2 separate regions of the Homo sapiens genome follow, and region 2 is linked to region 1. Evidence: fine-mapped expression QTL. Tissue or cell type: whole blood. Region 1 holds a variant in brackets; the other region holds the start of a gene. All regions are shown on one strand. Distances are between the middles of the regions.

Evidence for each region. PIP is the estimated chance that this variant, and not a neighbour inherited with it, causes the effect.
Region 2: CES2 starts here. The variant in region 1 is fine-mapped to the expression of CES2 in whole blood (INTERVAL, PIP 0.93).

What each region holds. Positions count from the first base shown.
Region 1 is chr16:67,912,507-67,917,701 of GRCh38, reverse strand. All of the region lies in intron 2 of PSKH1 (protein serine kinase H1), which reads right to left. Among named protein-coding and RNA genes, the nearest start is that of CTRL, 17 kb to the left of the region's middle. RefSeq lists an enhancer at 1,463-1,986. The variant ACTCT/T (reference allele first, on the strand shown) is at 2,492.
Region 2 is chr16:66,933,217-66,938,330 of GRCh38, reverse strand. CES2 (carboxylesterase 2) reads right to left here and starts at 2,815. Exons shown (of 12, transcript NM_001365405.1): 1 at 2,620-2,815; 2 at 90-294. The coding sequence starts at 2,695. CIAO2B (cytosolic iron-sulfur assembly component 2B) reads left to right here and starts at 3,929. Exons shown (of 5, transcript NM_016062.4): 1 at 3,929-4,108; 2 at 4,265-4,344; 3 at 4,592-4,717. The coding sequence starts at 3,967. RefSeq lists enhancers at 2,593-3,205, 4,044-4,243, 4,274-4,323.

The DNA of each region.
Region 1 (5,195 bases):
CAGGCTCTCTGCTTCCTCCTGGAGTCTGGCCCCTTGAGGGGAGCACTCCACTGGCTGCACAGCCTGTCTGCCTGCCAGCAGTCACATTTGGGACGCTTCCCAGGGCATCACCAATAGCCACTGGTGCTTCCCTCAGGAGAAGCCAAGAGAAAATTCCCCCACCAGTTATCACTTATAAATACTGCAGTTCAACCCAGCATACAGGTACCACTGTGCACTAAGCCTGGACACGACAGTGGACAGCATATGTATTGATGTACATGCTGTCCTCAAGGACCCTACAGGCTAGACAGGAGAGATGTGTCCACTGATCAGCAGCCAGAAAGCACTGAAACAAGAAACCAGCAACGTGCTGAGGCACACATACCAGGGAGAGCAGACTGCAGCACTAGACAGGCCAAGAACTCTGAAGCCAAGACAGCCTGGAATCAAATCCCAGATGTGCCACCCTCCAGTCGGGAGACCATGGCCAAGTTATGTAACCTCACCATCCTCAGTTTCCTCATCTGTAAGGTGGGGGATTACGTACCACCTGGCAGGGTTGTCATAGATTGGAGATGGGGGGTGTAGAACATTCAGCCCTGGGTCTGCTACTTAGTGGGCACCACACAATGGCAGTAGGCAGCATTATTTCTAAAGGAAACAACTAAGACCGATACTGGGAGCAGCGTGAACAGTTGAGGCAGAAGCTTGGTGTGGAGAGTGAATGGGGGCAATGGCTCAGGCCTGTGGTGTGCAGGGAGTGGGGTGGGGTCTAGGGCATGGGCTTCAGGCTGGGGGATCTGGAGTGCCAGGATGGTAGGCAGGACCCCACATGCTCTCCAGGTCAGAGGGTAGCCTGGAATCCTCTCCAAGTCTGCCCATACAAGCTGATGTCCCTCCTGCAGAGCTAGGACTCTGCTCCATACTCCTTCACCTCCTATACTGTGGCTTACATATGCCATGTGGATCCCACTCCCTGGGATCCCTGATCTGCCCCAAACATCCCCAGGAGGACAGGATGGAATTATTCCAGTAGCCTCCAGCTAGCCTTCCTCCTGCCAGGCTCCATTCCCACTTTCTGCTGCCTTCCTCCTCCATTACCCAGAACCCAGAGGGCTCCTCCCACAGTGCAGAGGGCTCCCAACAACAAACACCAGACCTGCCCCAGCCTCTTCAACCTCTGCTCTGTCACTCCCAATCTCCTGTTTATTCTGGAGCACTCAGCAATGCTCCCTTCTCTGGGCCTCCTCCTTCTCAAAACTCATCTTCTGCAGGAAGCTTTCTATTCAAGTCCATGGATGCCACTGAGCCTGACAGAGGACTGGGGCTGCATGGACAGAGCTTGCAGGAAATAGGCACACCAGACCCGGCCTGGTGTACAGGGGAGAGCACTCTATGGGGTCAGGGAACAGGAAAGGTGCCCCTAGAAAGGCACCAAGCACCACGAGACACTCGCTGGTGAAGAATGCATACCTCCAAACGCTGCTGCGTCAGAGGTCCTTCATTCACACAGCAACAACCCCCTCATCATGGAACACTCTCTCTCTCACAGGTTATCCTGGCAGAGGCTTGCTCACTTACATGGCCTTCCTAATGGCAAACACCTATTACACATATAGGACAGATGGCTGGAGTGGGTGGGGTCAGGGCCCAACCACCTGACCTGAGCACCATAGTCCATGTTCCAGACTGCCCAGGCCCAGTGGCTCTATGCCAAGGCCTGTGTTCACATGTGTCTGCCAATGCGGGTTCATTCTATGGCCATTCCCTATTCTAGTTCCTTCTCCCCAGGCAATCTCAACCTCTAGGGATAGGAAGAACAGGCCTTCACGTCTCTTGCATTTTCCCCAGGTGTGAGCAGGTGTGCTTGTGGGTGGGCAGTGGCCAGGAGAACAACAATAACAAAAAATGCCTGTCCTAGTGTCCTGGGATAGAGCTATAAAAGCATGCCAGGTTGCTGGCAGGAGCTTGAAGGAGGTGCTGCCTCTGCTTACCAGGAGACCGTCTAGCTGTGAAGTGAGTGGCTGGAAGGAGTGATTGCTGGGTCCCATTCTAGCGATGTCTGTCCTCACCTCCATGCAGAAAAGTAAAGAGAAACCAGGGCTCTGCCAGGGAGTGGCAGAGGCTGGTACTTCTCAGACTCCTGATGTTTATGCACATCCCCTGGAATCTCATTAAAATGTAGATTCTGATTCAACAGGTTTTGTGGGGCCTGAGGGTCTGCTGGATGTTCTCCAGCTGAGAGAGCCTGATCTCATGATAAGGACCCCTCCCCCAGGAAATGTCCCAGACGGATCCCTCCCAACCCAGAGCTCTCCACAGCGGGTGATAGAATCTGATTTTTGGGGTCAGGCAAGCTCCTGGTCACAGATAAGGGCCACCAGAACCTGCCAGGATTTGCCTCTGGAGCTGGAAACTGATGCTTTTCAGCTCCAGGTAAAGGGTAGTGGGAGCAAAGGCTGAGCAGTGCCTCTCCAACACACACACACACACACACACACACACACAC[ACTCT/T]CTCTCTCTCTCACTCACTCACTCATTCACTCACTCATTCACTGTGAGCTGCAGAGTCCTGCCCTGTGATTCCAGCAGAAGAACAACAGAATCTAAGGACCCAGTCTTTCGGCTACAGTAGGAGCGGGCAGGAACCCACTCCCCACCCCATTCGTCATTTTCCAACCCTCAGGTAATCAATAGCCAGTTAGCAAGACTGTGCAAGCTCCAATTAGATTAGCTGCCAGGTCAACGACTGCCAGAATCAGGAACTCAGGCAAACCTACAGGCTTGTAGCAGAGTCCTTCCTCTGTCAGCGTATCTTGGGAAATCTCTCTCCCTCACTCCTGGGCTAAGTTCAATGCCCCCTCTGCCAGCTGGACCCTCAACAGCCTGGCACCATGCAGTGCTCCCAGAACACAATCAGCTTCTCAAGCTTCAGACATTCCCAGATCTATCTTAAAATTTCAGTTTCACCGGGTGCGGTGGCTCACGCCTGTAATCCTAGCACTTTGGGAAGCTGAGGCGGGCAGATCACCTGAGGTCAGGAGTTTAAGATCAGCCTAGCCAATATGCCGAAACCCCGTCTCTACTAAAATACAAAAATTAGCCGGGCATGGTGGCACACTCCTGTAATCCCAGCTACTCGGGAGGCTGAGGCAGGAGAATCGCTGGAACCTGGGAGGTGGAGGCTGCAGTGAGCTGAGATCGTGCCACTGCACTCCAGCCTGGGCGACAGAGCGAGACTCCATCTCAAAGAAAAAAAAAAAATTCAGACCGGACACAGTGGCTCACGCCTGTAATCCCACCACTTTGGGAGGCTGAGGCAGGCGGATCACCTGAGGTTGGGAGTTCGAGACCAGCCTGACCAACAAGAAGAAACCCCATCTCTACTAAAAATACAAAATTAGATATCTGGGCATGGTGGCGCATGCCTGTAATCCCAGCTACTTGGGAGGCCGAGGCAGGAGAATCGCTTGAACCCAGGAGGCGTAGGTTGCAGTGAGCCAAGATCGCCCCATTGCACTCCAGCCTGGGCAACAAGAGCGAAACTCCATCTCAAAAAAAAAAAAATTCAGTTTCAGCTACAACTTCACGTGGTTCTCCAGAGCCTGCTATTAGGACAACTGAACTTCCCAAGTACCCTGCAGGGTCCTCTGACGGACCACAGCTATATATGAACCTGTCCCTCAGGCCATTGCCCCCAGGCCTGCCTCCTGCTTTCTCCCTCCTATACTTCTGTAGCTATCATTCCCTTTTTCTTGGTCTGACTCCTCACAGCCATGCTCCAAATTCCAGGTTCCCTCTTCTCTAAGACTGTCCCTCACCACCCCAGCCCACTTTTAAGGCACCTGCCTAAAAAACCTGCTCCTAAAGCATGTTCTTATAGGTCAGTGTTATCAACACCACCTGGTGTTTATTAGAAATGCAGACCCTCAGGCCCTACCTAGACCTATTAAATCAGAATCTACATTTTAACGAGATTCCAGGGGATGTGTATGAACATCAGGAGTCTGAGAAGTACCAGCCTCTGCCACTCCCTGGCAGGGCTCTGGTTTCTCTTTACTTTTCTGCATGGAGGTGAGGACAGACATCGCTAGAATGGGACCCAGCAATCACTCCTTCCAGCCACTCACTTCACAGCTAGACGGTCTCCTGGTAAGCAGAGGCAGCACCTCCTTCAAGCTCCTGCCAGCAACCTGGCATGCTTTTATAGCTCTATCCCAGAACACCAGGACAGGCTTTTTAAAAAAAAAAATTTTTTTTAAGACAGGGTCTTGGCCAGGTGTGGTGGCTCACATCTGTAACCCCAGCACTTTGGGAGGCCAAGGCAGGCAGATCACCTGAGGTCAGGAGTTTGAGACCAGCCTGGCCAACATGGTGAAACCCCATCTCTACTAAAAATACAAAACATTAGCCGTGCGTGGTGGCGCATGCCTGTAGTCCCAGCTACTCGGGAGGCTGAGGCGGGAGAATCACTTGAACCTGAGAGGCGGAAGCTGCAGTGAGCCAAGATCGCACCCCTGCACTCCAGCCTGGGTAACAGGGCAAGACTCCGTCTTCACACAGGCTGGAGTGCAGTGGCACATTCACAGCTCCCTGCAACCTTGAACTCCTGGGCTCAAGTGATCCTCCCACCTCAGCCTCCTGAGTAGCTGGGACTACAGGCATGTGCCCACACCTGGCTAAAAAAAATTTTTTTTAAGAGATGGGGTCTCGCTATGTTGCCCAGGCTGGTCTCAAACTCCTGGCTTCAGGTGATCCTCCTGCCTCAGCCTCCCAAACTGTGCTGAGATTACAAATGTGAGCCACCATGCCCAGCCTGGGAGAGGATTTCTTTTTTTTTGTTTCTTTTTTTGAGACAGAGTTTCGCTCTTGTTGCCCAGGCTGAAGTGCAATGGCACAATCTCGGCTCACTGCAACCTCTGCCTCATGGGTTCAAGTGATTCTCCTGCCTCAGCCTCCCGAGTAGCTGGGATTACAGGCATGTGCCACCACGCCCGGCTAATTTTGCATTTTTAGTAGAGACGGGGTTTCACCATGTTGGTCAGGCTGGTCTCGAACTCCCAACCTCAGGTGATCTGCCCACCTTGGCCTCCCAAAGTGCTGGGATTACAGGCGTGAGCCACCGTACCCGGCTGGGAGAGGATTTCTTATTGCCAGTTTATAGCCACAGATTGTGCCAACCTGATGGCCAATCCATATCTGAGAACCAAGTAA
Region 2 (5,114 bases), 980 kb after region 1:
TGAAATGATAACTGCAGCCTAGCTGAGCTCAGAGCACCCCCACCCCTGCCCCAGGGCCTGGAGTTCCCTGGACCCCTTGGAGAGCTTACATGGCCGGATGGGTGGTTCCATCCCTCACACCACTCCAAGATTCAGGGGGCTCAGGGGGTGCAAATCGCAGCGGACCTAGAGGTGGCTTGGCAAATGGAATTCCCAGGAAGGTTTGGACCCCGGCATTGGCGCCCTTCACATGGACAAGACTCCCCAGCACCTGCCCCGTGTGTGTGGTCCGGATGGGACTGGCTGAGTCCTGGCCTGTGGGCAGAGAGACAGACATCACGGTTGGGTTTGACCAATCGACTGCCCTCCCAACTGTTGGTATTGCTGCTTCCTTGCCATCCTCATCTTAGCTCAAGGGACTCTGATCTGTAAACATGGGCTTTACAAACTTCCTGCCTGTAACACTCCCTTCCCGCTCTGGCTTCCTGGGCCTGTCTCCATCCCACCAGGCTGAGGCTCCTTGGGGCCAGGCATCATCATTCAGCCCTAGGACCTTCAAACAAAGGGTCACATGCCCTTGATGGGACTAGAGTGTCCTTCAACTGTGTGCCAGGTCATGTGACAGTAGGATGATGGTGGGAATTGGGCAGGCAAGTTTCTTGTCCTCAGGGATGTCATGTCCAAAGTGGCAAGAAATCATGTAAAGAAAGCATCATCCAAACCATGAGTGATGTTGGTGAAAAGAGGTGCAAGAGAAAAGTATGGCTGTGGCTGGGATATAAAAAGCACAGTGACTGGCCTGGGGACCATAGTGGGACTCTGTCTCTGCAAAAAAATCAGGAAATAAATTGGCGGGGTGTGGTGGTGCATGCCTGTAGTCCCAGCTGTAGAAAAGCCTGGCTCCAGAAAGTGGGTGAGTTTATGACTGTTTAGATGAAAATCAAGGACAAGTGCACACATCTATTCTTGTGTAAACTGCTGGGCACTGTGTGTACTGCGGTGTCAACAAGCAGTTTCCAGTGTGGGCCATGGGGACTTTGATGGCCCCTGAGGAGAAGCCAGGACTGGTTGGGTAAAAAGAGGATGGCACACATCACCTGTACCCTCCTATGGCTTGTCAATTATTTTTTCTGAATGTGGGTCCAACCCAAAATTTTGTATACATATATATTTGTCAGACAAGGTCGCCATCTGTTGCCCAGGCTGGAATGCAGTAATATGATAACAGCTCACTGCAGCCTCCACCTCCTGGGCTTGAGATCCTCCCGCCACAGCCTCCTGAGTAGCTTGGAGTACAGCTGTCTGCCACCATGCTTGACTTTTTTTTTTTTTTTTTTTGGTAGAGACAAGTCTTGTTGCCCAAGCTGGTCTCTAACTCCTAGCCTCAAGTGATCCTCCCATCTCTGCCTCTCAAAGTGCTGGGATAACAGGTGTGAGCCACTGTGCCTGGCCCAAAATATTTTAAAAGGTAGCCATCTGTGAGGCCAGGCAGATCTTCCTGCTGGGCTCCTGGTGAACTCTAGAATGTGGTCAAGGGCAGGCACGGGAGGAAGCCCTGCAGCAGTGCACCATGGGGCGGGGGGAGTATGGACTCCACCTGCGCAAATTAAATTGGGGAAGGGTTGGAAGAGACAGATCATACACTTAGGAGAGTTTCGGGTGAGAGGACCAAAGGCCGAAACACTCCCCCAGCTTCTGATAAGGGCCTGGAGAAGCCTGGCAGGCACACAGAGCCTTCACCTTTGCCCTGGAAGCCAAGTTGTGCCCTTGCCCAGGATGAGGTAAATGGCATGAGGGACACCACGAGCTCTTTGGTTCTTGTTTCTGGAGACAGATTTTTGCTTTTTCACCCAGGCTGGAGTGCAGTAGTGGGATGAAGGCTCACTGCAGCCTCAACCTCCCCTACTAAAGTGATCTCCCACCTCAGCCTCCCAAGTAGCTGGGACTACAGGTCACAGACCACCACAGCCCACTAATTTCTTTCAATTTTTTGTACACTCCGAGTCTCACTATGTTGTCCAGGCTGGCCTCCAACTCCTGGGCACAAGCGATACTCTCCCTTGGCCTTCTAAAGTGGTGGGATTAAAGGAGTGAGCCAATCGCACCCAGCCACTGTGGCCTCTTAGATCTGCTTTAGGATTTGGCGCCTGGGGGCTTCTGTTCCCCAAGGACCACTATCCTTGTCTGAGGCCCCTTTGGAGGGCTCAGGGCATCCCCCCTGGCCAAGGACGCCACACACTGAGAGCCAGATGCTGCCAGAAGCTATTACTGTTATTACCGGCCGGCAGCACCCGCTACAGCCACAATCATAAGAGGGAAATGGACTGAATCCCCACACCCCAATCCCTCACCCACTCCGACCCCAGGCTGCCTACCCGGCCTGGCATGTCCCGGCGCTCCTGGGGCCCCTGTACTCCGCTGGTTCCTTGCCGTGGTGTCCCCCAGCCCGACCCTTTCTGTGCTTCTAGGAGCCCACCTTGGGCGGCGGGGAGGCGTTGCGTGGGGCTCACGAGTTCCACGCTGTCATCTCCACCAGCTCCTACCTCCCAGGCGCCTGCCCTCCCGCACTGTCAGGTTCTGCCTCCGCAGCATTTGGCAGATCTGAGCCCGGTCCCTGTCGCCCCTCCGAGGGAGCCTCACCCTGGCCCCGGACAAGAAGCAGCAGAAGCCCACAGGCCACCGCGCTCAGCCGCGCACGAAGTCTGTGCAGCCGCATGGTCGGCTCGCTGGTCTCGGTTCGCTGCCGGCGGACACGCTGCTGTTCACCCAGAGGCTGCCCCGGGTCTGTCCAGCAGTGGATCAGTGCCTTGCCCAGCCTTGGAGTTTGGACTGGGCAGGGAGTCAGCGGGGTGCGCTGGCTTGGGCCGGGAAAGGTGGGTGTGGTAGGAGAGCGGGACTGAGCAGTCATAGGTGGGTGGGGATCTAGTGGTAGGCAGGCCCGGGCACGGCCACTTTCCTTTGCCCGGGCTCCTTTGGCATCCTCGGAAGGGGCTGTGCCATTCCTGCAGCCCTTCCGCGATCCAGGGAATCCTCTCTTCAAACCTGTCCTTGTCCACAGGCCCGATGAGCGCGCTGGGGGATCGATAGGAGGGGGCAATAAACTAGAATTGGAGACCCCAGGAGGGCTTCTCTGAGGATGTGCACGTTCAGGATCCCCCAGATGGAGAAATGGGAAGGAACTTGATCGGGGTGAAGGAACCGCTTGAGCAAAGGCAGGAAGGAGTGTCGGCGCCCTTCATTCTGGAAGTTCCTCCTTGCTTTCAGGACTCAGTTTCCTGGGTTCCCCTTCACGGCCCCTCATCTCCTTACAGTCCAGGGTCTGAGGGTCTCCGCGGTCCCCTCCCTACTCAGTCACGCCATTCTTTTGAAACGTACACGTGACCGCGGCACTTCTTAAGGAGCGCCCCCCTTTTCCTCGGTGGCTTTCAGTTTCCTCACCTCCCGCGGAGACCACGGCCATGGTCATTTATCCACTTGACAAACATTTCACGAGCCCCTGCCGGTCCAAGCTGTGGGGACGCCGTACTCCCGGGCCTATGGTGCAGCAGGGGAGGCAGGCGCGTCACCGGGAGGTCCCGAGACACTAGGATCCCTGCCAGGCCAGAGGCGACCAACCGTCCTGGATACGGGAGCTCCCGGCCAGCCTGACTTCCAGGAGGAAGCGGTGTGGGGATTACCTCCGACCGCCTTTAGTGCCCCCTGAGACCTGGTTCTGGCCTCTACGTTTCAGCCCGCTACTGGCTCGCACGACCCAGCGCCGCCGTGGTCCCTTCTCAGCGCCTTCTGCTCCAGCGACCATCATGTTCCCGGGTCCGAGCAGCCAGGGCCGCGGTCACCGCTTCTCTCGCACCTCAGGCCGAGAACCCACAACGCGGCGTGTCCCTCGCGCGACTCCGTCGCCACGCCACGCCCCCTTCCCGTTCTCCGGAAGTGCGCGGGTTGGAGCGGAAGCGCACGCCTGCTAGGATCAGCGGTGGTGGTTCCGCGATGGTAGGCGGCGGCGGGGTCGGCGGCGGCCTCCTGGAGAATGCCAACCCCCTCATCTACCAGCGCTCTGGGGAGCGGCCTGTGACGGCAGGCGAGGAGGACGAGCAGGTTCCCGACAGCATCGACGCACGCGAGATCTTCGATATCCGCCGCTGCTGGGCGCGGGCGGGTTCCGGGGGCTTGCGGTGGGGGGAGCAGTGATATCGAGCAGCTGGTGGAGCCGCATCCCAGCAGGGCGTTCCTGGCAGAGGGTTCTAAGTGGGCAAGGGCGCAGAGTCCCTTTTCCTTCACTTCCCACATCTGATTCGCTCCATCAATGACCCGGAGCATCCACTGACGCTAGAGGAGTTGAACGTAGTAGAGCAGGTGCGGGTTCAGGTGAGTCACTTCCGAGGGGAGCGAGTTGTTCCAGAGAGTCAGAAAGGTTTCTGTGCAGCAGGAGCTGGCGTGCTCTATGCTCACGAACACCGAAGGGTATCTTTGGGGAGGGAGATTGTTGTGCCTATTTTATGGGTGTTGAAACTGAGGCCCATAGAAGTTGGATGATTTGCCCAAAACAACAAACTAAGAAGAGGGACCTTGGGCTGAGGGTGGTTGACTCTTGACATCTCTCCTCCACAACCAGGTTAGCGACCCCGAGAGTACAGTGGCTGTGGCTTTCACACCAACCATTCCGCACTGCAGCATGGCCACCCTTATTGGTCTGTCCATCAAGGTCAAGCTTCTGCGCTCCCTTCCTCAGCGTTTCAAGGTCAGTTGGAGCTGAGCCCCGGGAGTGAGACCAGGCATTGAGGGTCTACTGCTGAGGATGGGGACTGGGAGAGCATGAACATGGATAGGACATCAGAGTGGGGCCTGGAAGGATCCCCATTAGCAGAGAGGAAACTGGGAGGAAGCTTTCCAAGTCGATGTGACAAGAATAAAGATCTGAGCTGGAAAGTGGAGAAAAGTATTGAAGAGTGTGGCAGGAAGGGCAGTAGGGAGCGGCAGATGGGTTTGGACCAGGGGTGGGGCACAGGCAGGCCTTTAAATCAACAGTAGTGGGCCAGTTCTTTGGATAGAATTGGAATAGCTAGGGCCGGGCGCGGTGGCTCACGCCTGTAATCCCAGCACTTTGGGAGGCTGAGGCGGGTGGATCATCTGAGGTT